2 separate regions of the Homo sapiens genome follow, and region 2 is linked to region 1. The links come from fine-mapping of genetic effects on plasma protein levels. A gene starts in region 1. The other region holds a variant in brackets. All regions are shown on one strand. Distances are between the middles of the regions.

Region 1 (15,226 bases):
CATCCTCTCCAGCACCTGTTGTTTCCTGACTTTTTAATGATTGCCATTCTAACTGGTGTGAGATGGTATCTCATTATGGTTTTGATTTGCATTTCTCTGATGGCCAGTGATGATGAGCATTTTTTCATGTGTCTTTTGGCTGCATAAATGTCTTCTTTTGAGAAGTGTCTGTTCATATCCTTTGCCCACTTTTTGATGGGGTTGTTCTGGCTGTCATTCTTGTACTTTGAGCCCTTCACTGGTTTCCAGGGCCTAAAGAATAAAACCTAAGCACCTCAGCATGGCTGATTAGGCCTTTCATCACCACTGTATATCCTGATGTTCTAAGACCCAAGGGTTGCTGCCTCAGCAGATACCATGCAAGCCATATGTGCCTCAGCACATACCACACAAGCACATCCATGATTTTGCTTCTGTGTGTAACCCCAAGTGGTGGAATGTCTTCCTTCCCCTTTTTTTCTGGGTTACCACCTGCTTATTTTTGAAAATTTGGCTCGGGGGCATCTCTTCTAGGAAGTTTTCCCTGTTCTCTCGCATAACCTGCAGGCACTTACCATGTCATACTATAATAATCTCTTTTTGAGTCTGCCTTCTTCTCTGGACTGTAAATTCCCCAAGAGCAGTGCTATGGTTCAAATGTTTGTTCCCTCCTAAACTCCTGTTGAAATTTAATTGCCAGTGAAATGGCACTGGGAGGTGAGACTTTTAAGTGGAGTTTAGGTCATGAGAGCTCTGTTCTCATGAATGGATTAATGCCATTATCATGGGAGTGGGTTTGTTATCAAGGGAGTGAGTTCCTAATAAAAGGACAAGTTTAGCCCCCTTTTACCTCTCTCTCTTCCCCTCAACCTGCTTTATTCTTCTACCATGGAATGATATAGCAATCTCACCAGATGCCCTTGATCTTGGACTCTCCATTGTGGAGAGAACCACGAGCCAACACATTTCTGTTCGTTGCAAATTATCCAGTCTTAAAGGGGATATTACCACTGACCCCACAGAAATACAAATAACCATCAGAGAATATTATAAACACCTCTATGCACACAAACTAGAAAAGTCAGAAGAAATGGATAAATTCCTGGACACATACACCCTCCCAAGACAGAACCAGGAAGAAACTGAATCCTTGAACAGACCAACAATGAGCTCCGAAACTGAATCAGTAATAAATAGCCTACCAACTAAAAAATAGGCCAGGAGCAGATGAATTCACAGCCAAATTCTATCAGATGTACAAAGAAGAGCTAGTACCATTCCTACTGAAACTATTCCAAAAAACTGAGGAGGAGGGACTCCTCCCTAACTCATTCTATGAGGCCAGCATCATCTTGATACCAAAACCTGGCAAAAGAAAAAAAGAAAATTGAATCCAGCAGCACATCAAAAAGCGAATCCACCATGATCAAGTAGACTTTTCCCTGGGATGCAAGGTTGGTTTGACATATGCAAATCAGTAACTGTGATTCATCACATAAACAGAACTAAAGGCAAAAGCCACACGATTATCTCAATAGTTGTAGAAAAGGCTTTCCATAAAATGAACACTGCTTCATGTTAAAAACTCTCAATAAACTAGGTATTGAAGGACCATATCTCAAAATAATAAGAACCATCTATGACAAACCCACAGCCAACATCATACTGAATGGGAAAAAGCTGGAAGCATTTCCTTTGAAAACCAGCACAAGACGAGGATGCCTCCTCTCACCACTCCTATTCAATATAGTATTGGAAGTCCTTGCCAGAGTAACCAGGCAAGAGAAAGAAATAAAAGGCATCCAAGTAGGAAGAGAGGAAGTCAAACTATCCCTATTTGCATGATTCTATACCTAGGAAACCCCATAATCTTGGCCCAAAAGCTCCTTAAGCTGATAAACAACTTCAGCAAAGTCTCAGGATACAAAATCAAGATACAAAAAATCACCAGCATTCCTATACACCAAGAGTCAAGCCAAAGCCTAATTAAGAACATAATCCCATCCACAATTACCACATACACAAAATAAAATACCTAGAAATACAGCTATCCAGGGAGATGAAAAATCTCTACAATGAAAACTACAAAATATTGATTGAAGAAATCAGAGATGACACAAACAAATAGAAAAAACATTCCATGCTCATGGACAGGAAGAATCAATATCATTAAAATGGCCATATTGCCCAAAGCAATTTACAGATTCAATGCTATTCTTATTAAGCTACCATGACATTCATCACAGAACTAGAAAAAAGTATTTTAAAATTCAAATGGGGCTGCACACGATGGCTCACACCTGTAATCCCAGCACTTTGGGAGGCTGAGGTGGGTGGGTTGCTTCAGCCCAGGAGTTCGAGACTAGCCTGAGCAACATGGCAAAACCCCATCTCTGCAAACCAACCAACCAACAAACAAACAAACAAACAAACAAAAAAACAGAAATTAGCTGGGCATGCTGGTGTGTGCCTGCGGTTCCAGCTATTTGGGAGGTTAATGTCGGGGGATTGCTGGAGCCTGGAAGTTGAGGCTGCAGTAAGCCACTTTCACACTGCTGCACTCCAGCCTGGGGGAAAGAGCAAGATCCTGTCTCAAGAAAAATAAGGCCAGGCACAGTGGCTCACCTCTGTAATCCCAGCACTTTGGGAGGTTGAGACTGGCAAATCACCCGAGGTCAGGAGATTGAGACCAGCCTGGTCAACATGGCGAAACCCCGTCTCTACTAAAAATACAAAAATTAGCCAGCCGTAGTGGTGTGGGCCTGTAGTCCCAGTTACTCGGGAGGCTGAGGCAGGAGAATTGCTTGAATCTGGGAGGCAGAGGCTGCAGTGAGCCAAGATTGTGCCACTACACTCCAGCCTGGGTGACAGAGTGAGACTCTGTCTCAAAATAAATAAATAAATAAAATAAAATAAAATAAAAATTCATATGGAACCAAAAAAGAGCCTGAATAGCCAAGGCAATCCTAAGGAAAAAGAAAGCTGGAGGCATCACACTACCTGACTTCAAACTATACTTCAGGGCTACAGTAACCAAAACAGCATGGTACTGGTACAAAAACAGACATATAAACCAATGGAACAGAATAAAGAGCCCCCAAAATAAGGCCACATACCTACAACCATCTGATCTTTGACAAAACAGATAAAAACAAGCAATGGAGAAAGGACTCCCTATTCAACAGATAGTGCTGGAATAACTGGCTAGGCACGTGCAGAAGACTGAAACTGGACCCCTTTCTTACACCATATACAAAAATCGACTGAAGATGAATTAAAGACAAATGTAAAACCTAAAACTATAAAAACCCTGGAAGACAACCTAGGCAATACCACTCTGGACATAGCACAGGCAAAAATTTCATGGCAAAATGCCAAAAGCAATTGCAACAAAAGCAAAAATTGACAAATGAGATCTAATTAAACTAAAGAAAACTAAAAGCTTCTGTACAGTAAAAGAAACTATTGAGTAAACAGACAACCTACAGAATGGGAGAAAATTTTTGCAAACTATGCATCTGACAAAGGTCTAATATTCAGCACCTAAAAGGAACTTAAACAAATCTACAAGAAAAAAAAACAACCCCATTAAAAAGTGGGCAAAGAACATGAACAAACACTTTTCTAAAGAAGACATACATTTTATTTTATTTGCAATAAGCATATCAAAAAAAGCTCAACATCACTGATCATTAGCGAAATACAAATCAAAACCACAATGAGATACCATCTCATACCAGTCAGAATGACTATTACTAAACAGTCAAAAATTAACAGATGCTGGCAAGGCTGCGGAGAAAAAGGAATGCTTATACACTGTTGGTGGGAGTGTAAATTAGTTCAACCATTGTGGAAATCAGGGTTGCAATTCCTTCAGAAGCTAAAAACAGAATTACCATTTGACCCAGCAATCCCATTACTGGGTATATACTCACAGGAATATAAATCATTCTGTAACAAAGACACATGCATGTGTATGTTCATTACAGCACTATTCACAATAGCAAAGACATGGAATCAACCTAAATGCCCATCAATGGTAGACTGGATAAAGAAAATGTGGTACATATACACTATGGAATACTACACAGTTGTTAAAAAGAACGACATCATGTACTTTGCCAGAACATGATGGAGCTGGAGGCCATTATCCTTAGCACACTAACACAGGTACAGAAAGCTAAATACTGCATGTTCTTACTTATAAGTGGGAGCTAAATGATGAGAACACCTGGACACACAGAAGTGAACAACACACACTGGGGTCTACCTGAGGGTGGAGGGTGAAAGGAGGGAAGAGGATCAGGAAAAATAACTAATGAGAACTAGGCTTAATACCTGGGTGACAAAAAAAAAATAATAATGCCTGGGTACAACAAACCCGTGTGACATGAGTTTACCTATATAACAAACCTGCACATGTACCTCTGAACTTAAAATAAAAGTGAAAAAAGATAAATCACCCAGTCTTAGGTATTCTGTTATGGCAGCACAAAAGGGACTAAGACAAGACAAGCAGTAACCATGTTTTCCTAACTGCAGTATTCTTTTTTTTTTTTTTTTTGAGACGGAGTCTCGCTCTGTCACCCAGGCTGGAGTGCAGTGGCACGATCTCAGCTCACTGCAAGCTCCGCCTCCCTGGTTCACACCATTCTCCTGCCTCAGCCTCCCGAGTAGCTGGGACTACAGGCGTCTGCCACCACGCCCAGCTAGTTGTTTGCATTTTTAGTAGAGATGGGGTTTCACCGTATTAGCCAGGATGGTCTCGATCTCCTGACCTCGTGATCTGCCCGCCTCGGCCTCCCAAAGTGCTGGGATTACAGGCGTGAGACACCACGCCCAGCCTCCTAACTGCAGTATTCTTAGTGTTTAGCACACTATAAGTATTTCAGCATTATAAACAAGTCATCAAAATACTAGAGCAAAACTCATCACAAAGTCCACCTTACTTTGTTCTCCTTAGGTTACAGACATGAAAAGCCTAAGGCACAGAGAGCTGGCAAAGGAATGGATTGCTAAAGGGACTGCTTTGTAATAGTACACAGTAGGTGCTCTTTCTTTGTCATATGCAATTTTTTTTTTTTTTAAGAGACAGAGTCTCATCACCCTGTTACCTAGGCTGGTCTTAAACTCCTGGGTTCAAACAATCCTCCCACATCGGCCTCCCAAAGTGCTGGGATTACAGGCATGAGCCACTGCACCCAGCCATAATTTTTTAATGTATATTTTCATTAAAGGGACATACCAAATTTCCCATGAATGATTACTTTTGATATTAGGGAATACAGTTGACACAACTATGTTTAACAAAATACTAATTTAATAAATGATTGGTAACTGATAAGCAACTTTTCAGACCAATTTAAGAAGCAGAAAGAATAATGAAGGATATTATATTCCTCGAATACTGGGAAAGCATGATACTTTTTGGATCAATATTCCTTTTTTAGTTTTTGAAAATGTGACTGTAAAAGAGATTTCTCTGTTCTAAATATGACAAGCCAAGAGGCTTCTTGACTCTGTAACCTGTGTCCCAGTTACAAAGTACTCTATTATGTCAAACAAATACAAACTTTGATAGGTACAGTATAACTCTCTTTTATTTTTTTATGTTTAACAGGGTCTCACTCTGTTGTCCAGGCTGAAGTACAGTGTACAATCGAGGCTCACTGTAGCCTCAACCTCTGGGTCTCCAGCGATCCTCCCACCTCAGCCCCCCAGTAGCTGGGACTACAGGCTCACACCACTACGCCCAGCTAATTTGTGTATTTTTTGCGGAGACCGGGTTTTGCCATGTTGCCCAGGCTAGTCTTAACTCCTGAGCTCAAGCGATCCACCCGCTTGGCTTCCCAAAGTGCTGGGATTATAGGCTTGAGCCACCACTATGCCTGGCCATAACTTTTTTTTTTTAAGTAATCTAGGTCCAATGCTTCATCCGCTTTGGATCTAAAAGCTTCTAAATTCACTTATTCCACTATCCAATTAAACCTTTTGAAAATTAGGCACTCATTTCCTGATTTGGCAGGATTAAGCTTAGATGCTTGGGTGAACACGAGTCTTATCTCTCAAGCCATCACTTTTAATTGGCAGCATGTAAAAAGATAACACAGAGTTTTAGTTGACATCAGAGTCTATTGCTATGGAAATATAAACATAGGTTTGTATTAAGCACGTCTCAAAGCAAGTTTTAGGACTGCAGAGAGACTTGAAGAGAGACAGGAAGTCAATTTTATTAAAAATTTATCCTTTAAATGTTGTAGTGCCCTAGGAGGTCAGACCCTCAGTGATCTCATCCAGCCTCATGGCTTTAAATACCATTGATACACTGATGACTCTGAAATTTATATCTCCGGGTTGGACCTCTCCTTTGAGATCCAAACTCTTGTATCTATTTTCTTCACCTCCTCAATTTGATATCTAGTAGGTACCTCAACCCTCCCAATTCCACTCTGTGCTCCTGATACAGCCCTCTCCCACCCAACTTTCTCTGCATACAATCTTCTGCGTTTTCATAGAGGTCAACTTCCACTAATCCTGTCAACTCTACCCCAAAAATATAATAGAAAGATGCTTTCTCTCCACTTCACTGCTTTCAAGCTACCATCATTTCTTGCCTAGATTGTTGGGATTGACTCTGAATTTGTGTCCCTGCTTCTGTATTTGCCTTCCCCTTCATGCTATTTATTCTCATATAGCCCTTGGAGAGATCCTATTATAATCAAAATAAGATTATGTCACTCCCCTGCTCAAATCCTCCACTAGCTTTTCATCTCATCCAAAGTATGACTCAATGTCCTTTAATCACTGATTGCTGTCTCCTGACTCTTTTTTTCTTCTTCATCCATACTGGACTCCATGTTCTTCACTGAATACGGCCTTTGAGTACACTATTCCTTCTGCCTGGAATGCTCTTCCCTCAGATTATGACTTGTTTTCTTTCCTCCTTTAGGTCTTTACTCTAAATAACCTTTTCAGTGAGGCTTTCTGAAGCCAGTAATCTAAACTTCCTATTCCCATCCCTCCTTACATGTTTAATTTTTCTCCTTAGCTTTTACCTAACTTACTATGTAATTAACTTATTTCTACTGATACTGTCTTACTAGAATGTAAACTTCATGAGGCAGGGATTTTTGTCTGTGTTTTCACTGCTGTATCCTCTGCACATCAGGAAGTGCCTGGCACATAGTATAAATTCAATAAATATTTCTTGAATGAATAATTAAAAAAATGGGTGATACAGGTCATAAAAAATAAGGTTTACTAATGAAAACATGATTAACAAAGGCCTATGAGCCTAACGTCTAAAAATATTCACACATTGTTGTTTTGTTGTGGAAATCTGTCTTTGGAAAATCTTTGACTTTATATCCCATAAGACCAGGGTTGATTCCTTGTATCTTTGTAATGTGTAACTTTAGAGATGAGTGTTCAAGAAGGAAGAGGATGATGAGAAAAATATAAGTGAGTATTAAATAATTTCAATTGTTTGCCATGCTGTATGAGCTAATGATTTTTAAAAATTATTACTACATACGACTTACTATTCATAGCTGACTGAAATTAGAAATGAAAAAAAAGGTTATTCATTGATTGAATTAGCAGTGTCTGGCACACAGTAATGTAATATATAAAGTAAGTTGGGCTTGGATGCCATCTAAAAGGGCTTAGTTATTGAAGCAGTTTTATTTCTGAAGTGATACTAAAGAATAGGCATGCGTGTCCAGGCTAGTTACAGTTAAATTTAGGAATAAGGCACAGTAATAAAGATACTATCTTTAGACTTGAAAATTATAAATCCTTAGTTGTTATTCCTTATCAGTTTATAAAGTTAACAATGAATGTACAGACTACAAGCTATCAAATGTACTGTAGATGAAAAGGGCAATAAACACTAGTCAGAGTTAGAGGTAGAATGATATAATGGAAAGGTACGAATTGGGGCCAGGCACGGTGGCTCACGCCTGTAACCCCAGCACTTTGGGACACCAAGTAGGAGGATCGCTTGAGCCCAGGGGTTCAAGACCAGCCTGGGCAATATAGCGAGAGCCCATCTTTAACAAAATAAAAAATAGAAAATATATATTTAAAAAAATAAAAAAGAAAGGTTAAGGATTGGGAGACCTGGGTAGTAGCCTTTACTAGCCACTTACTAGCCAGTAAGTAACCACTTACTGGCTGTGTGATTTGGAGTAAGTCATTGAAGCTCTCTTCCTTATCTCACTTGTAAAATGTGAGGATAGAATGATAGGCTTCAAAGAGTCTCTGAGAACTAAATATTGTAGGATTTTTTACTTCAAGCTTAACCACTGTGGTAGCAAAAATAACATACTCTCTGCTCCCCTCTCCCAAAGTATGTCCACATCCAAATCCCCAGAATTTGTGAATATGTTGTTACGTGGCAAGGGGAAATTAAGGTTCCTAATAAGTCACCATAAAATAAAGAGATTATTCTGAATTATCTGGTTGTGCCTAATGTAATCACAAGAGTTCTTATAATGTAGAAGAGGGAGCCAGAAGACTGGGGATCAGAGTGATGTAATGTGAGAAAGACCTGAACAACCATTGCTGGCTCTGAAGATGGAGGAAGGGGCCACGATGAGCCAAGGATGTGGGCAGCCTCTGGAAGGTGGAAAAGGAAAGAAAACAGATCCTCCTCTAGAGTCTCCAGAATGGAGCCCAGCCCTGCTGACACCTTGATTTTAGCCCAGTGAGACCTGTATCAGACTTCTGACCTCCAGAACAGTAAAAAAATAAACTTGCGTTAATTATTAAATTTGGTAATTTGTTACAGCAGCAGTAGATAACTAATATAATCATGATACTAACTGTAACTAGAAAAGTTGCACCCAAGTTTATCACAGATGCAGGGTTTTAAATGAAAATCCTATACGCAGATTTTTGTAAAGATCTTCAGTGTCATAAGTAACGAGAGATCATGAAAAGTTTGTTGAAAAGCTGTGGGAATTAGCAGAGAGAGTCTATATGGGAATACAGTTTTTACTAATGATTTTTTACTGATGATTTTACTAATGATTTTGCTAATCATCAGTAAAATTTTTACTAGTGATTTTGCTAATCATCAGTAAAATTTTTACTAGTGATTTTGCTAATCATCAGTAAAATTTTTACTGATTCATGTGAAGAGAAGAAACTTGGATATTTTATGAAGGAAAGAATATGGCCAAGAGGAGAAATTCTTCTCTGGGCTTCAGTTTATTTATCTAAAAACTGAAGGACTAGAATAAATAATTTCCAAATTTTTCTAGCTCTGAAATAAGACTTTAAAACCCTGACGGATGCTAAAATGGGCCTTTGACACCACTCCCCTACCCCACCCCACAAAGTACTATAGTTATTTTTAGTATCTGATGGTCAAGCTTCACAGAAAGCTCTCAGTTTGGTAACAAGGAAGTAGCTCTGAATTTTAACCCTGACACTTTTATTCAGGTAGGATGTATGAGAAAATTTTCTTTTCTTTTCTTTTTTTTTTTGAGATGGAGTTTTGCTCTTGTCACCCAAGCTGGAGTGCAATGGCGCGATCTCAGCTCACTGCTACCTCCACCTCCCAGGTTCAAGCAATTCTCCTGCCTCAGCCTCCTGAGTAGCTGGAATCACAGGCGCCAGCTACCATGCCCAGCTAATTTTTGTATTTTTAGTAGAGATGGGGTTTCACCATGTTCGCTGGGCTGGTCTGAAACTCCTCACTCAGGTGATCTGCCCACCTTGGCCTCCCAAAGTGCTGGGATTACAGGTATGAGCCACTGCGCCCGGTCCACTTTAGTTTTCTTACTCTTCTGCCACTTCACACATAAAATCATGGTAAACATTTAGCTTGGTGGATTTCCCATGGAATGAATCATTTTAGATGAAGGTTTATTCCTTTATGTAACTCAACTTTATGAATTTTTGATGAAACTTTTTCTAAAGTGAAATACATGCTCTATTTTTATACAAAATTTAGTAAGTACCATATAACCTTTTCTTGAAAAGAGTCATCACCAGTAAAATCAATTGCTATATTGTGTTGTAAACACAGTAATGTTCTTTCTACACAGATGTCTGCAAACTATGGCCTGCAGGATGTTCTTGTAAGGCTTGGGAGGTAAGAATGGTTTTTACATTTAAAAAATGTTGTTAAAAAAAAATGTGACCTTGACCACATACGGCTTGCAAAGCCTAAAATATTTACTATCTGGCCCTTTACAGAAAAGTTTACTTACTCTTGCTCTAGAAAAAGATGTACAGGCCTCTTCAACAAATGTCTCCAACTAGATTCAATTTTATGCTCTGTCACCAAAGGAAAGTATTTTTATCTTGGCACAGTGTCTGACAGAATAGTTCTAATATTTGTGGAAAAATAAAGGTCATTGGTATTTAAAATTCTTTTGTTGCTTCTTCTCGTTACACAGTCTCCTACTCATCCTCAAGTTTTCGTCAGTCACTATAACTGCCTCTAGCAGTCTCTTCTCTAACTCCCACCTTTCTAATCTCAGTGGAAATTTGGTAACACAGCTTATAAATATTTTAAGGTAAGGTTAAATTGGTTACATGAAGACCCTAGACCTATTTTCTGAGTAGAATACAGGTGGTTTGGTGCAGCAATTTGGTGACTTATTTTGATTGTCCCAAAGCCTTTTTGTTTAGTTCCACGTTCTCTATTACCCTTTGGAAAAGCAACATTTCAGGACGAATGAGGTGTTACTGTAGCATACCTGATCATTTTTATAACACAAAGTAGCATTACAACTGAAAAGATATTCATCAAAAGACTGAACTGCAGTAATTGGAGTGGTAGGATTTTCTTGGAATATCTGAATTTATTACTAATTTTACAGTGAACATACATTACTTTTGTAATCAGAAAAGCTACCTTAATTTAAAAAAAAGAAAAATCAGAAGGATCTGTCTACTCAATCTTACTGACCTAACTCAACAATTTTCATTTGGCATATTTTCTATCATAATTTGATCATCGTTTTCAGAGGTTGTAAATACTGTGTTTATGTTTTTATTTTGATTCATACTTGGCTTGCTGAAAAATACGCTGTAAATATAAAATACTGCAGTAATGCCGACAATCAACATGGTGAAAGGTGACAGTCTTTTTGATTTCTGCTCAACTCATTATTTTATACAATAAGCTCAGACGAATAATACCCAATTTGGATAATGTTACGCTTGACAAAACACTTTACTTCATTTAGTCCTCACAACAACCCTGTGAGGTAGGCACATTCTCGGAGGTAAAATGACGTGGGCAAAGTTCCCTGGCTCGTTTGGGGAAAGGCTCAGCAGCCGGGCCAAGAAAGGTCTTTGGGGGCGCAAGTCTTTGGAGGGCAGGTCTTTGGGGAGCGCTTTGAGTAATATTAGAGCTTTCACTAAACCCTGGCCTATTACGTCCCCTCCCCTGAGATTTACCTTTATATACTCAAGTTCTTTCATGCCAGGAAGGTAGGCTGAAGGCTTCGAAAACCTGCAGCTCATACCCAAAGCTAGCACTGTCTATCCCTGGAGACCCAGCGCCCAAAAGCTCCACTGGGCGCATAGCGCACGGCACGCCTCCTCCCCCGAGCCGCAGACTGAGTAACTGGCCCCGGACTAACCTGACCAGGTCGGTCATGCAGGAGCCCACCACTACCACCGCCGCCACCTCCTCTTGCCACTGCCTCTGGGGTTCCCCAGACGCCGCCATCGCTCAAAGGTGCTGCTGTCCAACCTGGACGGTGACCTCTGCCCTTTGCCCGACCCCGTAACCAGAGACGCCACTCCTGCCCTCCCTAACGACGCGGGCCTTTCAGACGCCTACGCGGGTCGCCCACCTGACTGCCCGAAATCACCCCGCCCACCAAGTGTCCCCTCTTCTTCCTGGAATAGTCTCGGTGCACAGCCTCACGTAACAGGGCCCTCCTGATATGGCGAGACTCCGCGCTCCTCGTCACTCACGGGGCAGGCGCTGAGGAAGGAACTGTCAGGCACCGCGGGGACGCCTTTCCGAGCGCCCGGCTCGGCGCGGCGCGGGGGCGCGCACGCCGCCCAGCTTCGGGGCCGCAGAGGGGGCGGGGCGGGACGTCCGGGGAGTGCGCACGCATCCTGCCCGCGGCGCGCGCGCAGGTCGGTGCGTCTGTCGGGGGCGCGCTCGGGTACCTGTACCCCACGTAGTCGCCGGTTACCGATCGGACTAAGTTCCAGGTACCTGGACTGGGGCTGGTGCGGGGAGGTTGGATCCCGAGTCGCACAGGTGGCGTGGAGAACTGTGGTTTAAATATGGCCAGGGGACTCGCCTCCTCTTCCTATGGAGAAGGCCCCCGTTCCAAAGATGCCCTTCTCATCCCCATCACGCTGATTCCCTCAAGAACGAGCCCCCAAGGCCAGAGGCGTCTCTTTCTCCATATCTGGCCCATCCCCTGGTTCCTGTAAACCCCGAGTATTAGTTCCTTGTTGCCTGATGAGGGGAATCATACAGTTTGGAAGAGGGGAGAGTGTCCCTTTTTAAGACGTCCCCTAGAGTGGGGTGGTCATTCTTCGGGTCTGAGCTAACTTGTTTTTCTCGAATGTTGCCCCTTGGGGGAAATTGCTTCCCCAGTGTAACTTCCCTCGTGCGCTGTATGACGTCGACGTGACGCAGCAGGATGCCACCCCTTTCCGTTCCATGACGTCAGCAGGGCACATGTTTCCGTGTTTGTCATCTCATTTTAATTGCAAGAACCTGGATGGTGCTTTAGACGTCTTTGTAATCCCCAGGCCTCTCATCAAAGGACCTTTTGTAACTTTATTTTGGGGTAGCAGACCCTTGCAAAAATTGTAATTTTGCATTTTCCTTTTGCAATACGTCAAAATCAGGAAATACAAATTGCAGTAGTAGTATTCAGGGGACTCTGACCACCGTAAATATTTGTATATCTGGGGTGTATTATAGTGCTGCCATGCGTAAGAGTTACTACCGGTGGTGACTCCCTGTCCATGTACCCGGTTCACTGCACCAAAGGACCAGTGTTTTTGGCTAAGTGACTTCTGATTTTGGAGTCATTGTGTTCCACTCCCCACCCCCCGCCCTTTTTTTTTAGAGAAGTCACACCTCCTCATGGTTGAAATAGATTTTAATACTGCGTGAAACCTTGCACTGTTAAAACATAGTATTATGGCTGCCCTGGAAATAGAATTCATTCCCTCAGGTGTCATCCTAAAGTCACGACCGTTGCTGAATTAGAATGTATTGTTGTCACTTAGTATGGTTTGGCTTCTAGAGCAAGGCTGTTCCCTTTAACATTTGACTAGTGAATCACTCAGACCAGGTTCAGCAGTAGGTCAGCAATAGTCCAGTTTGTTTTTAGTGGTAAAGCAATCATTTGTTTAAATTTTTACTTTTTGTCTGTTCACATTTTATAAGATATACGCTTTACAAAATCACCTTGATGCTTTTCTCTTTGGTGATAGAAGTTATCAATGTTTATTTGAGAGAAAGATGGGTATAGTGGACTTGGAGAATCCGGATTTGGATTCTGATCCTCCAGCTTCCAACATTCAACAAGTTATTTTATTTTGCTGAGCTTTAATTTTCTATTTGTCAAGTTTCTTTAGCTTCCACTTGTCAAATGGGAACAATTATTGTTCTCAGGGAACAGAGTTGGGGAAATGTAAATGAAATTACAGATAGAGATGAGTAATATAATGCCTGATAATGGGTAGATAGGTGTCTAGAATGTGTTGGTTCTGTTTCCTTCTTTTGTAGAAGCAAGAGATAAAGTAATAATGGGTACTGTGGGGAAAAACACAGAAGAACAATTCGGTAATATAGGTGAGACCCTTTTGCTTTTTTATAAGATAGGTATATTTGTACTTAGCATATGACTTTGATAAGCATCCCTTCAAGAATTGTGACATAGACATGAAGGTGGAAATGTTGGCGAATAGAAAAAAATAGGCTTCAAAATTATGATGTGGATTAGTATACTGTTCAGAATCAAATTATAATAATTACCCATATTATCTGCAAACTGGGAATTAAAATTCCTTACTACCTCAGGCTTGTGAAGATCAACTGCAGTAATATATATGGACGCTCCTTGTAAGTGATAAAATGTTTAAAAAAGTACATGATTTTTATGATTGGTAGTACAGTGTTAGATGTTTAGTCTTACTTTGAAATGAGAGACTAGTCGGGGGGCGGTCATCTGTTAAGCGGTCAGAAGAAGAGCTTGTTTTATATTTACAAAAAGGATGATTTTAGAACTGAAGTATGAATATAAAGGTGTTAATCTCGAAGATACTTCTGGTTGTCATCACTATATAGGGTCAAAGTGTTCTTATTTTTTGAGCTATCAAATTAGCAAATAAATTTATTACTTACTATCTGAAATAATAAACTGAAACAGGTTTTAATTTTCAACATTTATTTTAGCAAGGACTTGTAAGTTTTCATGTGGTATAATGTATGAAAACTAGAACCAGAGCATCATTTACTGGTAACTTGCTGGAAATTAATTTTCTTTTGATGTGGCATTATTCTTTAAAATTGAGGAAGGAAACGATCATTTGAATCGACTTTTTCCTCTGAAGGAAGAGGCTTTCATTTAGAAATCTATTAAGAAGAATTCGTGTACTCCCTCCCCCAGCCCTATGAGTTTCCAGATAATTTAGATATGATGTATTGGTTCTACTTTTGTGGTTTTAAGTGTAAGGACTTAGTGCCTTAAAGTCAAATACCTTAAGATCCATGTTAGTCTGTGTTGCTTGATAGCTGCATAGATGTATGTTTTCATAATTTAATTGTCAAGTAGATTTTTGTTATATCTCTTCCTTGGATCTTGTTATATCTATTCCCCTACCAAATTCTGGGGAGGGGGCACATTATCTTCTCTCCATACTGAAATATTTCTCTAACTTTTGTCCCCTTACTCATTTATTTATTAAAAAATGTTTATTGAGTGTTTAGCATGTGCCAGGTATTTCTGTTAAACCCTGGGGATTCAAAACATAGACCCTGCAGGGAAGAGATCACGTAAGCAGGTAGTTATACTACACTGTGGACGGAAAGGTATTAAGAAAGGTGTATCAGCAGTAGGCCGGGTGCGGTGGCTCACGCCTGTAATCCCAGCACTTTGGGAGGCCATGGTGGGTGGATCATGACGTCAAGAGATTGAGACCATCCTGGCCAACCTGATGAAACCCCGTCTCTACTAAAAATACAAAAATTAGCTGGGCGTGGTGGCATGTGCCTGTAGTCCCAGCTACTCGGAAGGCTGAGGCA
Region 2 (16,819 bases), 29 kb before region 1:
GGTGCGGTGGCTCATGCCTGTAATCCCAACACTTTGGGAGGTCAAGGCGGATGGATCACCTGAGGTCAGGAGTTCGAGGCCAGCCTGGTCAACATGGTAAAACCCCATCTCTACTGAAAATACAAAAATCAGCCGGGTGTGGTGGCGCACGCCTGTAGTCCCAGTTACTTGAGAGGCTGAGGTAGAACTGCTTAAACCCAGGAGGCGGAGGTTGCAGTAAGCTGAGATTGTGCCACTGCACTCCAGCCTGGGCGACAGAGCAAGACTCTGTCTCAAAAAAAAAAAAAAAAAAAAAAAAAAAGAAAAAGAAAAAAAGAAAAAAAAGAAAAGAAAAAGCTAGTTAGCCTAGTGCCTAGTGTAACCCTGAACCACTGAACTATAATTTAAGTAGCTTTGTCTGTGACTGGATCCTGTGACCACATTCTTGCTTTGTGGTCCACTTTGGTAACTGGATCTCCCCTGTTTTTGTCAGCATGAGTGTGTATCCTAATCATCTGGTTAGCCCTCTAGCTCTTTCAGAACAGGCACTCTTCTCTGCCTGGCCAGCCATTTGCAGGGGCCAGGCCTTTAGGTCTGTGGCTCAAAACCAGAAAACTATGATTGCAAGGCCTTTGATACTAATGCTGGCATCTTATCGACATCTCCCTACTGTCCGTTTCTGGCCTCCGTGGTGCTGCAATCACTGTGCTAGTCAGGACACCCTTGTTATCTTCTCCCATACCCCTCTAATGCTAACCATTTGTCTGACTGCTACCTTGGCTGGACCTTGGCTTGAACTCTACAGTTGAATCTACAGCAGAGGTTGTAAATTGGTGGGCTGAAAGTTCAATCTGACTGCTAGATATGTTTTGTTTGCCCTACTACTGTTTTCTAAAAACTAGACTTTATTTTAAAAACAGTTTTAGGTTCTCAGCCTAAGAGAGTAGAAAGTACAGAGTTCCCATATACTCTCTGTCTCCTCCGGCAACTAGTATCCCCCACTATTAACATCCTGCAACTAAGTGGTACTTTGTTACAACTGATAAACCTACATGACATATCATTATCACTCAAACTCCATAGTTTACATTAGGGTTCACCCTTGGTGTCGGATATTCTATAGGGTTTAACAAATGTAAAATGTCATATACCCACCATTATAGTACTATACACAATAGTTTCACTACCCTAAAAATCCTCTATGCTTTGTATATTCATCCTTCTCTCCCCACTAGCCTCTGGCAACCACTAATCTTTTGTCTCCATAGTTTTGCCTTTTCCAGAATATCATACAGTTGTAATTACACAGTATGCAGCCTTTTCAGATTGACTTCTTTTACTTAGTAATATGCAACTAAAGTTCCTCTGTGTCTTTTTATGCCTTGATAGCTAATTTCTTTTTAGGGCTGAATGATATTCCATTGTCTCGATGTACCAGAGTTTATTTATCCATTTATCTACTAAAGGATGTCTTCCAAGTTTGGGAAATTATGAATAAAGCTGCTATAAATATCTGTGTGCAGGTTTTGGTGTAAATGCCCTGCTATTTTTATCAGTTCTCAATACTTAAATATTAGAAGACTTCACAAAAACAGACAGATGTCCAGGGGGTTCTGAAAATTCAGAGGTTCTGGTAACACTGGGTCCACATTCCTGCAAGGCAAACCACCTGGAACTGAGAGGTGAGTGCCTTAAAGTGCTCATAGACTCTTGGCTTCACCTAGCCTACTGCAATTTCTGTTACCTGCTTGGCTCCTGTAGGCCTTTAGTCTTGCTACCTCTGAACTATACTTCTGAACTGAACTTCTATTTTTCTGTCCTGCAGGTGAGCATTACTTCAATGGACTATGTCTCAATCCAGGTTTCAGTCACTCCTGGTGTGTTCTATTCTTCCACAGAAAATTGTTCCTTTCTGGATATATCAATAGAAAGAAACCTGTCTGTTTCCTTACCATCATTTCTGAGAACTTAGAAGTCCTTTGCCCTCTCTCCTCCACTAAATCAAACCTCACCTGTTTTTCAAGTATCAGCTTAAGGTCTACCTTCCCTACTCTGGCCCTTGTTAATCCTCTCATCTCCACACCTCCTATGACATTCCTAATCAAGCCCATAGTTCAATACCATCTTATATTGTTGGCGATTTCATATTTGTTAGTCTAGTCTTCTTAAAAGCTTACTGGAGATTCTTTAGGATTTGATCACATTAGTTGTCCTTCTGTTCATTTTCCTTGGACCCATCTTGTAGTCATGTTCCATTCTTTTTTTTTTAAATTTTTTATTTTTTTATTTTTGAGACGGAGTTTCGCTCTTGTTGCCCAAGCTGGAGTGCAATGGTGCGATCTCCGCTCACTGCAACCTCTGCCTCTTGGGTTCAGGTGATTCTCCTGCCTCAGCCTCCCGAGTAGCTGGGATTACAGGTGTGCACCATCACACCTGGCTAATTTTTGTACTTTTAGTAGAAATGGGGTTTCACCATGTTAGCCAGGGTGGTCTCGAACTCCTGACCTCAGGTGATCTGCCCATCTCAGCCTCCCAAAGTGCTGGGATTACAGGCGTGAGCCACCACACCCGGCTGTCATGTTCCATTCTTGAAGGAACATGACTACAAGCACCCAAACTATTCTAGAATGGTTCCATACAAGGTTTTGTTTCCAACAGCCTCCTTGAAGGCACCCTCACACTCTTTTGACTACAGCAGTGAAATACTTTTGGGTAGAAAGATTCTTGGAAACCCGCATAGTCTGAGATAACCTGTCTGTGTTAACTTGTTCCACGTGAAGGAAGCCAGGTCAAGAGCAACTATGGACAAGCACCTGCACATAAGCCAAAAGGGAACTCTCAGAACTCAACATGCTCTTTGGAAATCCCAGGCTCAGTTCCGCCCTGAATATTGTAGAGTAGTGCCATCCAATAGAACTTTCTGCAATGATGAAATGTTCTATATCTGTGCTGTCCAATACAGAAAATGTTTTCTATTTGTTCTGCCCAATACAGACACTCGAAATACAGACTGTGTGACAGGAATTCAATTTTTTAACTTTGATTACATTTAAATCTAAATATCCACATGTGGCTAGTGGCTTCTGTATTTGACAATGCAGCAAGGGTCATGGAAAGCAAAAGGGCTGGGTGTATGAGGAACAAGAGCATTTCTTCAGCTAAGGGGACTGAGGTGCTTCCTTCACTCTTATCACTGGGAGGGATCTTTCTGCATTGAAGAAGAGCTTTGGGAGGGCTTCCAGAGTCCAGAACTATGACCTGAAGCTAAGGAGGGCAACTTCAGTCAGCATCATAACTTCTATTTTGCAAAATGACTGAGGAATGGTTGTTTAGGCTGCTTGGAATCCTCAAATGGCAGAAACCATCTAGTAATTCTACTCCTCAACATACATTTGGGGTAAATAAAACACAGGATATCAAAACATCCTACCCAAGGCCACATGAAATTGAATATTCTGCTCAAGAAGTTATCACATATATTAAAACAGGTTACCGATTTCAAAGCATTAGAATACAGAAAATATGTTTAACACTAAAACTAAGATGAATATAATTTAATCCTTGCAACTGAAGACATTTTGTCACTTTTCAGTGCCTGAGGGTTATAGTGAACAGCTGGTTGAGGAGACTAAGTTGCATTTGTTGTCATACAAAACCCAGCTGTTGCTTTTTTGAATAAATCCTTCATATTAACTTTTAACTTGTCATTTGTGGCCTTATAACAAAATACATAAGAAGAATATATAAAATCTCAGTTATTAAAGCTTGCTGGTTGTTTAAATCCTAGATAAAGGGGTGTTTACCTTAATAATGGCCTTTAGGCTAGGCATGGTGGCTTATGCCGTAATCCTAGCATTTTGGGAGGCTGAGGTGGTAAGACTGCTCGAGGACAGGAGTTCGAGACCAGCCTCAGCAACACAGCAAGACCCCATCTCTACAAAAAATTAAAAAATTAGCTGGGTGTGGTGCTGCATGCCTGTAGTCTCAGCTACTCTGGAGGCTGAGGTGGGAGGATTGCTTGAGCCCAGGAGTTTGAGGCTGCAGTGAGCTGTAGCACCGTAGTACTACAGCCCAGGCAACCTGTCTCTGAAAAAAAAAAAAAAAAAAAAAGGCCTTTGGGCTGGTGGTGCACACCTGTAATCCCAGCACTTTGGGAGGCCAAGGCAGGCAGATTGCTTGAGCTCAGGAGTTTGAGACCAGCCTGGGCAACATGGCAAAACCTTGTCTACAAAAAATACAAAAATTAGCTGGGTATGGTGGAATATGCCTGTAGTCACAGCTACTTGGGAGGCTGAGGCAGGAAGATCACCTGAGCCCGGGGAGGTTGAGGCTGCAGTGAGCCCAGATTGCACCACTGCACTCTAGCCTGGGCAACAGAGTGAGATCCTGTCTCAGAAAAAAATAAAGACCTTTAATATACAAAGTTAATGCTGCAATCACCATTATTAGGCCTGATTATCTGAGAGTGGTGATAGGTTTGAGATAATCCAGTTATTTTCTCTCATTTCTACCATTTCTTCCTATACAAGGTTTATATTATTTGCTTGGTTATAGGATCATTTGTTTGAACATATGGCTAAGCATTCCAATCAACATAGCCAACTAATTATATCTAGCTGTCTTTCAACAGAGTTCAGGAAAGGACAGATTTCACCTCATTATATATTACCTGGAAAGACCTGGTGACTAATTTTTGATCTCTGAAAATGAAAATCTCAATGCATGATCAGATGATTCTCCCACAGTAATCTAGCACAGAAGGTACTTTTTGGTTAAGGTGATGGATACTCTAATGCACTGCTTTTCAAGCTATCCGTGGAGAAGCACTGGCCTTGTTTTCCTTTTCTTGTTTTCAATCCATTGTGGACTAACAATTTTATAAAATACAATAACAAGGAGATGAAAACAAAAAAGAGTCATACAAACTACAAGGCCTAATTTATTATTACTATTATATTCAACGGTTGTAAAGTTATTCTGTCAAATTGCTATAAATGATCCTAACTGCTTACTCTCAATTCCTGTGCTGTTTGGACCGGTGACAATCTGCATGCAGCCTGGCACCAGCCTGAGGACTGGACTTTGAACAGCACCACCTTAATGTACCGAGTTAGGAGGCCAGCAGGTCTTATTTTCCAGTTGGACCCTGCTGGTGGAAGCAGGATCTGGTCAAAACATGGTGCAATGAAGACGCTGGCTGAAAAGAGGAAAGTGACCTCTAGTTGCTCTCACTGCTCATTAGCACAAGACACTCCTACTGGACCCAAGATAGTTTACAAATGCCATGGCAATGGCCCAGAAGTTACCTTTTATAGTTCTGGAAATTCCCCACCCTTTTTCCAAAAAGTTCTGAATAACCTGCCTCTTAATTAGCATATAATTTAAAGTACATGTAAATATAGTTGCTAACAGCCCATACACTACCCTCTGGGCACATAGCCTATCAGTTAGCCCTGCAGCACTGGTTCAATCAAAGTTGCTTTTTCTTTTTTTTTTTTTTTAATATTTAACAGCTTTACTGAGATATAATTATAATAAAAACCCTGCATATATTTAATGTATACATTTTGATGGGTTTGAATACATGCATACATCTGTGGAACCATTACCACAATCAGTGTAATAAACATCCATCACCTCCAAGTTTCCTCCTGCCCATTTGGCAAGATAAAATAAGATCCAGAGATCTGCTGTACCACATCGTGCCTATAGTTCATAATACTTTATTGTATGCTTAAAATGCTCTTAAGAAGGTAGATCTCAAGTTAAGTGTTCTTACTACCCCCCGCCCCCCCACCACACAAAGTTGCTTTTTCTTATCCTTGGCTCACTCTTAAATTCTTGCCTGGGCAAAGCCAAGAACCCTCCTTGGCTAAGCCCCTCAGGGCAGCCTGCATCAGTATCACCTCTGTCACAAAACTTCATGCTTGATGGTTCTGAAGGGAAAACAGATAGCTACCTGTATTAGAGAGTTTGATAGTCTCATATATGAAGGATAGTCTCATATTTGAAGGATAGTTTGATAGTCTCACATTTGAAGGAAGCAAGACAGGGTAATTTCTTGAAGGTGTTTCCAGTTTGCTGATTCCTGACCTGGGTCATTTGGGTTCATACCTGCTCATGGTTTCTGTGCTCATACTGGGCCAGTGCATCTTGAGTTCCTTACTTGACCATGGTCCTCTCCTGAACTGCCAACTTTTGATGTTTAGGAATAACTTCCTCTTCTTAACATTTGGCTTCAATGGAATGGAGCAGGAAACACTTAACTCAGGTGAAGATTTAAGAAAGATGTCCTAATAGGCTCTTTGCCCTGGGAGGAAGACTTTCATTTTATACAATATCTGCCAGGATTTTAAATCTGAAAATACCATCTCCAGTTATCACTAGACTGTAGCTTTGGTCCATGACTCAGCTAAATACTGACTAACTCTTAAGTACTTGAAGTGTTTCATTATACATGTATCACTGTATAAATAATGAGGTAACTCATTTAATATTCTTTGTCACAATATCTTAACAAATATTTCTCCCTAGCTCAATATAAGTTTGTTTGGGCCATCAATCTTACTTCATAAGAGTTTGAATTTTAGTTTGTTATAGGTAGCAAGAGGTAAATAAATCTTGCTGAGAAAGCCATAGAAAATTTTTACCTGTTTTTCTTTTGCTCCTTCTGTTCATTTTTATCTTGATAAATTTCATGGTTTTGGTTTCTACTTAGAACTTGTCATCTTTAAAAAACTGCTATAAAGCAAGTTTGGCTAATTTGCTTAATAAAAATGTATCTCACAATGGATAAAATATGATTAATGGACAGATAATAACTTCTTTTACAAAAATATATGATTTTCTTTTTAAGAAGTCTGAGAATATTATGCAATTTGCTTAAGCTTTTAAATAATTCCATGTCTAAAGGTTCCAAGTTATCTAACCAAAGTTACCCTGGATAGGTTTTAGCTGCAGTCATGTTTTTTGATCCTCTGCTAGGCAGACACACAGGCTAAAATCCACTGTGGTGCTAAGCATTAGGTGACTAAATCAGGGGCATGGTAGATGTATAGAACTTTCAAAATTGTACAGATGCTAACATAAACCATCACACACAAATGGTACCTTTGCTTTAATCAACCTCCTAACTGGAACATTTCCCAAAATACAGCCCCCTGCTTCTATTCCTCTCCTATCCACTCATATGGTTTTAGGATTCATTTCCCACGTTCAGTTCCATAACTCAAATATTTCTCTTTGTCATTTCTTTCTTTGCCTCAAATTCAACAGACCTAAAATAAAATCAATTTCATAATCTTAGGGTTGGAAGAGATCCCAGGGGACATCCAATCTTGACTTTAATGGCTACATAAATAGCTTCCATAAAACATCCAAGAGAGGGGTTCTCTAATCTCTCCTTTAATGTCTCCAGCTCTAGGAACTCCCCTCTTCCCAGCGAAGCCATTTTGGGTGCATAGCTTCCAACGCCAATTCTATGTCCAAGTTTTCCTACACAGGAAATTATATCATCCTCTTTCCAGTTCCCAGGTCCTCTTAATTAAGTCAGCACCATCTGATTACTCTCCAAACGCTCCATAGCTAATCAGGTATGAGATGGGTCAGGCCTAAGTTTTTAATCAGCCACCTCTCACAGACCCATAATTCCTGGAACATAATTAATTGCTGATTAATTACACTGATATTTTAAATCTATCAAGAGCTCAATCTTAGCAAAAGAGGGTTTCTTGCTTTGAATCTGATGCTTCACGTGATGTTTTTGACCAAATAGCCATGTGAAAATTATGTTAATCATAGGTTAGAAATAAAATTACAGTTTACTAGCAGATGGAGTGATAATTGTATAGTTTATACATCATTTAAAACTCCTGTGGAGAGAAAAGTGCTGACTGCAATGAAAAATGACATTTCGAGAATTTTTGGTAAAATCTACATAGTTCACAGGAGAAAGCTCATTCTTTTAAGTTCCTTGTATTTTTCTTGCCCTTTAATAATGTGCAGACACAGGCTGGCTTTCCCTAAAAATCAAAGAAACACAATCATCTACCTTTCCTGTTATACTAATGCTATAATGCTAGCGCCTTAAAATTTCATGAAAAATGAAAAGTGAAAACTTTTGGCAGCCCATTTATTTTCAAATTATTTCGGTAGCATGGATAAAAATAGGAATACTGTATGTTACAATATCATATCTCTACATACATGAAAACAAAACTATGCCAAAAGCTCAGTTATATGTAGCTCATTAAGGCCCAGATTCTTTTCAGATCTAAGATACAGCATTAGAAGAAAATGACTTAGAGATGAGTAAATCACCGGTTATTACAAGAAGTTTCCAAAAGCTGTGTTGCTGCGGTGAAACCTGCTAAAAACAAGGTGACTCATGCTGTTGTTTAGAAGCTGGATGACAGAAACCCATTGGAGTACGCTAATTTCCCTCACTTCTCACACCCCAGTTACAAACTCATTACATTCAGGGAATGCAGCATTAAGTTATTTGAGAACTGCTACTTCCCAGAGGATTCAATGAGGTAGAAATTAGTATAAAGGACAAGGGAGACTATTCTCTGTTATTTAGATCTTTAAAAACAATAAACTTCCACAAGAATTGAAAGCAGGTACTCAAGTAGATGTATATGCATGTTAGTAGCACTGCTATTCATAACAGCCAAAAGGTGGAAACAGCCCAAGTGTCCATCAATCCATTCATTGATGAATAAAAAAATTGTGGTATATCCATACAATGGAATATTATTCAACCACAAAAAGGAAGGAAATACTGATATATGCTACAATGTTGTACCTCAAAAACAGTATGCTAAGTGAAAGAAGCCAGGTACAAAATGTCACATAATATATATTCCATTTATATGAAATGTCCCGAATAGATAAATCCATAGAGATAGAATGAAGACTGGTGGTTCCCAGGGCTTTAAAGGGAAGACAGAATGAGGAGGAACTGCTTAAGGGGTAAGGGATTTTGTTTTGGAATGATGGTAAAGTTCTGGAACAAGACAGAAGTGGTGGTTGAATGTATTAAATGCCACTCTATGTATTACATGCCACTGAACTGTTCACTCTAAAATGGTTGAAAAAATTAAAAACAATGAACTCCAGTCTTAAAACCAGATTCTTACCTCTAGAGTCCTCTCCACTATACTTTGTACTTACCTTACACACCATGGACGTCATTGCTCCAAGCCGAGCAGCTTGGACACACTGGTTGGCACCTTTCCCTCCAAAGCCAATAAAAAACTTATGTCCATGGATGGTTTCTCCAGTTTTTGGCAAACGAGAAGTAAGA[C/G]TATTGTAATTTAAAAAGAGAAGAAAAAAGCATATTGGTAACTGTAATCAATTTAAGTTCTTTAGAAGAGAGGGAAGGCTATATGGTAGAGCTCTAAATAGTCTTAACAATTAGAACTATAAGCAGAAGCAACGAAGATTATCTCTTCCTTTAGGATGACATTTAGTAGTTTGCATCATTATCAAGAATGAGTCTCCTTGACAGAATTCCTCTCTCTCTCCTAGAGACCACTACTGTGGCTAGTGTTGTACTGCATCAGGGTTATTCATGAATACTTTTCCTTCATATTCTCTTTCTTAATGCCAGCACAGAACTTTATTCACAGTGGGATTTAATAAATGGGATGAAATTAATGTATATTTCTATATGGGTTTATCTGGTCACTTTAACAAGAAGCAGGAAGTGTTAAACCAAGAAGCAGGAAGTGTTAAACCAGACCAGGATTCTGATAATCAAGTACAGGACCTAAGGAGAAGAGGGAAGTTACAATTCCAGGTGCTAAAGAATCTTTTTTGTTTACTAAGGGGTAGAGTAAGAGTGGGGTGTTCAGAGAGCAGGATCAGGTTTTAGTCTTAGTCCATCCTGCATACCACATCATTTCACGTGCTCACTCAAAAAGGGTGTCTATTTTAAAAAAGGAACACTAAAGAGCTAAGTTATTTTTAAATTTTTATTATGGAAGATTACAAACCTATAAAAGTAGAGAAAACAGCATACTGGCTTCCCTTTCCCTCATTCACCTATCATCCAGATTTAATAATTTAATACTTATTGTTTCATAGCCAATCTTGTTTGAGTCAATACCTTCATCAGCTTCTCTAAGAGGTAAGAATTTTTACCATAATGCTATTATTGCCTAATGATGATAGTATTAAGTGAGGCAAAAAGAATAAAAGGTTTGATCCAGGGTAAGATTTTTATATTTCATATTATTAAAGATGGAAGGTGTGAGGAAATAAAATATTTGAAGGATGGAAGGAAATGATTGACTTTAAAATGAAAGAGGCATTCTGGGGAGTTCTAGGGCAAGTGAAGAAGATGGGCTCAGGTGGCACGAACACTGGCTAGCTGGCCACAGAGAAGTGGGCCAAGGGCCAGAGGGAGCAGATAAAAAGAGGGTAGGTGTGACCAAAAAAGGTTAACTAGCTTTAGATAGGAAAGAAAGGTAAAGAGGTAAGTTCACAATGGTAAGGCCACTGAGAACCTACACTGCTTTTACAGGTTAGAAATTTATATTAATTTTCCACATAGGTTGTGATCTATCTGAAGTCAGTATCTTATATTAGAACAGAGCAATGACAAGTCCTAACAGCCAGTTTGCAACGGGATGACATATAACTGATGCTAAGAACACACGATTGCTTCAATAAAGACCAAGCTCAACCTGTTAACCTCCTTTATATAGCTCTAAAAGTGTCAATAAATTGAGCTGAACTACTCCATTCCCTTGCAGTACACTGTCAAATATGGTTGAGATTCAAAAGAGCCTCATCAATAATTTGAAAACATCCCACTCCTCCCCTTTAAATTCTATTTTTATCTTGGATTCTAAATGCATTTATAGTACTGATGAAAAAAAATATACATCTAGAAGGTTCACTTCTGAAAAAGGTACTCAATCAAGAGAAAAATGGTTTTAATGTAATGTTATTATCCTGTCATTTAATTTAGCAATGACAAGTGATGATGAGATTTTGATTTGCATTAGAAATCTTAAACATCTTAGGATTCTGTTATGAACAGGCAATGATGAGTAATCTGTGTGATTGAGTAACTATGTGAATTCTTGGCTTACTGATGCTGCTACAAACAACACTCAGAGCAACCTGAAAAAGAAAAAATATACCATGTGGCTAAAAACAGGCCAAATAACTTGATTAGTAAGACTGTCACTAAAGAAACTTATGATTTCCACTACATCTATACTTAGATCTGGGTTACAATTCACTGGTTTGAATCAAGTGTAATTTTTATTACTAACTGTGAGAATTCATTTAAAAATCACCAGATTATTACTGGGATGTATATATATATGTGGGGGAAGGGCAAAATCATGGGTACAGTAGGTGTGTTTGATGTGGGAGCAGATGGCTGGGATTTAAACTCATTTCTAAACAACTTCTATTAACACAAGCATTGTATTAATTCAGTGATCACTGAAATTCTTCACTCTTTTGGTATTTTACTAATTTCTCCTCTTTTTCTTCTGCATCCTTCCCCTACTCTTGTCTCTTTCTTCCCTTAACTGTAGACTTTCCCTGCATGAGGACAGGGACCAAGTCTGTCATGTTCTCCATTTTATGCAATGTGTCTGTCACTTGACACGAGGTTAACAGATATTTGCTGATTGAACAGATTTTTGTAAGAGTCTCCCTTTGTCTCTGTCTCTGTCTCTCTTTCTCTCTTTTTTTTTTTAAACAGAGTCTCTCTCTGTCACCAAGGCTGGAGTACAGTGGCACGATCTCGGCTCACTGCAACCTCCACCTCCTTGATTCAAGTGATTCTCCTGCCTCAGCCTCCCAAGTAGCTGGGATTACAGGGGTGCGCCACCAGGCAAGGCTAATTTTTGTATTTTTGGTAGAGAGGGGGTTTCATCATGTTGGCCAGGCTGGTCTCGAACTTTTGGCCTTAAGTGATCCGCCTGCCTTAGCCTCCCAAAGTGCTGGGGTTACAGGCATGAGCCACCGCGCCCAGCCTCCCTTTGTCTCTTTTCTGTGTCTCCCCCGTATAGCATCTATTCCTGTTCTGAAATGAGGATGTGGAGGTGTTGATTAGGGAAGCAGGGGGAGACTGGCAGGGATGACTGGGCAACTGTCCGACAATAACAACTCCATATTTTACCAGATCTTGCCCACTGCACTCCCAGTATCAGCAGCATTCCTCTTCCACAAGCAAGAACTGTAACTAGAAGTCATATATTCCTTCATTCATGCACTAATTCAACAAATGTTCATCACTGTGTCCTGATGTATCTCCTACAAGGCAAAATCAACTTGTTGACAATGGCATTAAACCTAACCCTGATGCAAGTAATACACGAGTGAAGAAAATAATTCACGGAATAAGGAGATTAGTATGTTCCATTTCTTTTTGGGGGGGGGGTGGAGTCTCACTTTGTCTCCCAGGCTGGAATGCAGTGGTGTTATCTCGGCTCACTGTTACCTCTGCCTCCTGGGTTCAAATGATTCCCCTGCCTCAGCCTCCCGAGTAGCTGAAATTACAGGCATGCACCACCATGCCCAGCTAATTTTTTTTGTATTTTTAGTAGAGATAGGGTTTCATTTTATTGTCCAAGCTGGTCTTGAACTCCTGATCCCCCTGCTTCAGCCTCCCAAAGAGCTGGGATTACAGGTGTGATCCATGGCGCCTGGCCTGATTTTTTTTTTTTTTTTTTTTTTGAGACAGAGTCTGCTCAGTTGCTGAGGCTGGAGTGGAACACAAAAATGGCTCACTGGAGCCTCAACTTCCTGGGCTCAGATGATCCTCCCACCTTAGCCTCCCAGAGAGCTGGGACCACAGGTGCACACCACCACTCCTGGTTAATTTTTTGTATTTTTTTATAGAGACGGGGTTTTGCCATGTTGCTCAGGCTGGTCTCAAACTTTTGGACTCAGGCGATCCTCCTGCCTCGGCCTCCCAAAGTGTAGGGATTGCATGCGTGAGCCACCGTGCCTGGCTGATTTATGTTATTTAAAAGGAAAAAGATATAGGTATATGTTCTCCCATGATATGTACATGCATAAAAAGTGAAAAGTTAAATGACAGGTATTCACAAAGAAAGGTGGGGACTAAAAGTTTGTGTGTTATTTTATATTCTTATGCACATAAATACATACGACAAGAATATTTTAGTGTATTATACGATACCACTTGTCACTACATCAGATTCACGTGGCCTCTGCCTCATTTACTAGCCACCAGTTCTTGGTGGGCACCAGCTGGCTTCTCGCAGGTGTCACCTAACAGAGCCTTACTGAATGCTGCTCTCATTCCACCCCTGGGCTTCTGTCTCTTCAGACTGTCCTGAAGGACTGAGCAGCCAGTGGTCAACTTGCAAATGTCAAATACCTTTGTATACGCTCTTCCTTCTTCCCTGTCCCCTGCTCTTGACTCGGGGGTTATAGTGCTAACTGACTATGTGCACTTAAGCCTCTGTCTTAGGCTCTGGTTTCTGTTAAACCCAGACTAAGACAGTTTATGGCGGATTTAATTTTTTATAAAGTAAATAAACTGAAGAGTGGAGAGAGCAACTAGGAAGTTAGTTACAAACAGGCAGAAGCATTTCTGAATTATAAATCCTAATTTAATTTGAATGAGACTTTCCTATCTTTCTTCCTTATTGAAATCATGAAATTATGTTCAGGTTCAAGAAAGCATCTGCACAAAGCACCGTCTCCTGGGATGAAAGCATTACTATGATTTGTTCTAATTAAAAAAAAAAAGAGGTTTAACAGAGTGTCAAAGACAGAAAAATTAAATTGCTCAAATTAAAAAGAAAAGGAAACAGTATTAGTAGAAATACATTGTTACTACCATTTAAAGGTAAAAATAGTGTAAATTTCTGAATGAGGGAGAAAACCTGAACAGAGAAAACCATGCCTAAGAAATATATTTGAATTTAAAACAAATTCATAGCTTTTAAAATGCCACAATGTCTTCAGGTTGGACTGAAAGGAACAGTGATAAATGTTCATACATGGCCCCAGTCTTCCCTGCCATGAGAGGCCACGTGGTTAGAGCCTGGGTGTGCCAGGCAGGAGGCCTGAGCCACTTACTGATTGTATTACTTTTGACAGCTTTTCCCTCTTTGAACCAGCTTCTTCTCTTGCAAAACAGGTTTAATAATACTTGTCAACTCCTTAAATGCCTGGGTTTTGTGCTCTGAGTTAATTCACTGACAGGTGTTACCAGAACAACTTATCAATTGCTTTTAACTTCTTGACAATGATGTGGTTTTTACAGATTCTCAGAGATTATTCGAACCAAAGGAAGGAATGACCCGGTAATAGGGGGATGAAAAGTCTTTCAACCAAAGAGGTCATGCTAATATTGGCTTCAGCCAAAAGTCACCAAATGTGTTGCTTTTTGGCTTTTGCACTGATCTTTTCTCCTTTTGGCTGCAAGCTTCTGACAACAGAAGCCTCTATAACAGGAGATTGTACTATTAATTATTACCCAATTAAAATTCATTACACTAATTTATTATTCTTACTGCCTGTATTCTTCAACCATATTTATTCTTCTCAGCATTTGTATATGCCACATTTAAAAGGCTGAGAGTAATTTCAAAATCAAGTGAGTGACATCTATTTCTACCTCTGTAAAAAAATCTCCCAACTAAAAATTCATTCTATGTTCCCTAACCCTTCATTTGCAGACGTATATGTTATTTATTTAAGGTAATGAAACATAAATTATGCTTTATGCAGTTTTTAACTGATTTTGATTACTAACCCATATCTTTTTTTTTTAAGAGACAGGGTCTTGCTCTGTTGCCCAGGCTGGAGTGCAGTGGTACAACCACAGCTCACTGTAACCTCGAACTCCTGGGCTCAAGCAATCCTCCTGCCTTGGCCTTCTGATTAGCTAGGACTACGGGGGCACACAACCATGCCCAACTAATTTTTTTTTTGTAGAAATGGGGTCTCGCTATGTTGCCCAGGCTACTCTTGAACTCCTGGCCTCAAGCAATCCTCCCACCTTGGCCTCCCAAAGCACTGATATTACAGGCGTGAAACTCATATCTTTTCCTAGCTAAAATGTCTGCGACTAAAATGTCATTTTGTCTGAAGATGCAGCTACTCTGGAATTTGTAGAGTGGACAAACAACACTCTAGCCAGAAGTGACCAGCCTTTCACAATGTCATATCCTTGAGCCCTATTTATTTAAAACTTACTTATGTGTGAAAAAGTGTACCAGGCAATGAGAGAGACAATAAAGATTAGTACATATGGTCTTCTCCCATGTTACAGTCTTACAGGGCTGACTTCATTCACATCTCTGCTCAAATGTTACCTCTTTAGAGAGGACTTCCCAGACCACCTTATAGGAGACACTCCCTTCTTAATATAATTTTTAAGTATTGACTCATTCATTCTGAGAAAAAAAAAAACCAGGTTTTTGAATCAGAGACAGCATTTAAATACTTATACTTTAGTTCTCCAGTCCCCCACAAGGTTACATGATAAGAATAACTCCCTAATAGTAAATTTTGGAGCCTATATAGGACATTTCACACACAGCTGCTGCTCCTTCTCCCCTCTGGGGTGGGGGAAGAAGCAGCATGCATCACCTGCACATGACCTACTGACCTTTGCTTTGTAAACAAATCCTCTCAGGGAGAGAAGGGGAGGGTCTCTAGGTTTACAACCTTCAGAAGGAAAACAAATTATCTTGGGGAGAAGTCTCTGAATCTCTCCACAGGTCTTTAACTTCCAAGGCTTGTTTGCCATTCAAACATTCTTTAGGCCGGGCGCGACGGCTCACGCCTGTAATCCCAGCACTTTGGGAGGCTGAGGTGGGCAGATCACGAGGTCAGGAGATCAAGACCATCCTGGCTAACACGGTGAAACCTCATCTCTACTAAAAATACAAAAAATTAGCCAGGCGTGGTGGCAGGCACCTGTAGTCCCAGTTACTCGGGAGGCTGAGGCAGGAGAATGGCGTGAACCCAGGAGGCGGAGGTTGCAGTGAGCCGAGATCGCGCCACTGAACTGCAGCCTGGGCGACAGAGCGAGACTCCTTCTCAAACAAACAAACAAACAAACAAACAAAATTCTTTAATCCGGTGCCAGAAATCTTTGCTCAGAAAGTCCTGATCATGCAGAAACATGAAAACATTCATGAAGCATTGCTTCCCAACAATTTTCTTCATAGCAATATCACTACATGACATTACAATACTCATTTCCTTCTTTTCCTGCTTTCTTTTGGATTAACTGTATTCCATTTTACGTTCCCTGTTTGTGTGTTATATTCTACCTTCCCTTCTCCTCCTCCTTTTTTTTTTTTTTTTTTTTTTGGTAGAGACAAATCTCAGTAAGTTGCCCAGGGCTGGTCTTGAACTCCTGGCCTAAAGTGAGCCTCCTACCTTGGCCTCTCAAAGTGTTGGGATTACAGGCATAAGTCACCATGCCTGGCTGATTTTTTCCCCTAGTATTTTAAAAGTGGTTGATCTAGGGTTTACAATATGCATCTTAAACTGATCACACTTTATTTTCAAACAGTACCATACCACTTTACTTAAAAATGTAATCTACTTTACATATTCTTCCATTTCCCCTTCCTAACCTTTGTGCTATTGTCATACATTTTACTTCCACATGATGTAAACGTCACAATACTGTTATTACTTTATTAATTTTAAATGTCAATTGCCTTTTAAAGAAATTGAGAAGTGAAGAAAAAGTCTTTGTATTTACCCATATATTTACCATTTCTGGGGGTCTTCATTCCTTTGGGTGGATCTGGGTTTCCATCTGGAATCATTTTGGTTCCACCTAAAGGAACTTCCTTTAACATTTATTATAGTG

Alleles and levels. Alleles are on the strand shown, and positions count from the first base shown. The strength of an association depends on the size of the effect and on how common the allele is.
In carriers of allele C in region 2, the plasma level of the protein whose gene starts at base 11,713 in region 1 tends to be higher than with G alone (strong association).

Evidence for each region. A credible set is the group of variants that fine-mapping cannot tell apart. PIP is the posterior inclusion probability: the model's chance that the variant is causal. Protein levels are from antibody-based Olink assays in UK Biobank. Linkage for the fine-mapping came from a reference panel and not from the study's own genotypes, which makes the PIPs less certain.
Region 2: its variant is the best candidate, but not a certain one, in a credible set for the plasma level of the RBKS protein (UK Biobank, PIP 0.67).

The regions. Positions count from the first base shown.
Region 1 is chr2:27,878,675-27,893,900 of GRCh38, forward strand. RBKS (ribokinase) reads right to left here and starts at 11,713. Exons shown (of 8, transcript NM_022128.3): 1 at 11,583-11,713. The coding sequence starts at 11,671. BABAM2 (BRISC and BRCA1 A complex member 2) reads left to right here and starts at 12,055. Exons shown (of 12, transcript NM_199191.3): 1 at 12,055-12,168. BABAM2-AS1 (BABAM2 antisense RNA 1) reads right to left here and starts at 12,440. Exons shown (of 1, transcript NR_028308.1): 1 at 10,782-12,440. RefSeq lists a silencer at 11,901-12,180.
Region 2 is chr2:27,849,286-27,866,104 of GRCh38, forward strand. It overlaps RBKS (ribokinase), which reads right to left. Exons shown (of 8, transcript NM_022128.3): 2 at 9,154-9,286. Among named protein-coding and RNA genes, the nearest start is that of RBKS, 33 kb to the right of the region's middle. The variant C/G (reference allele first, on the strand shown) is at 9,287.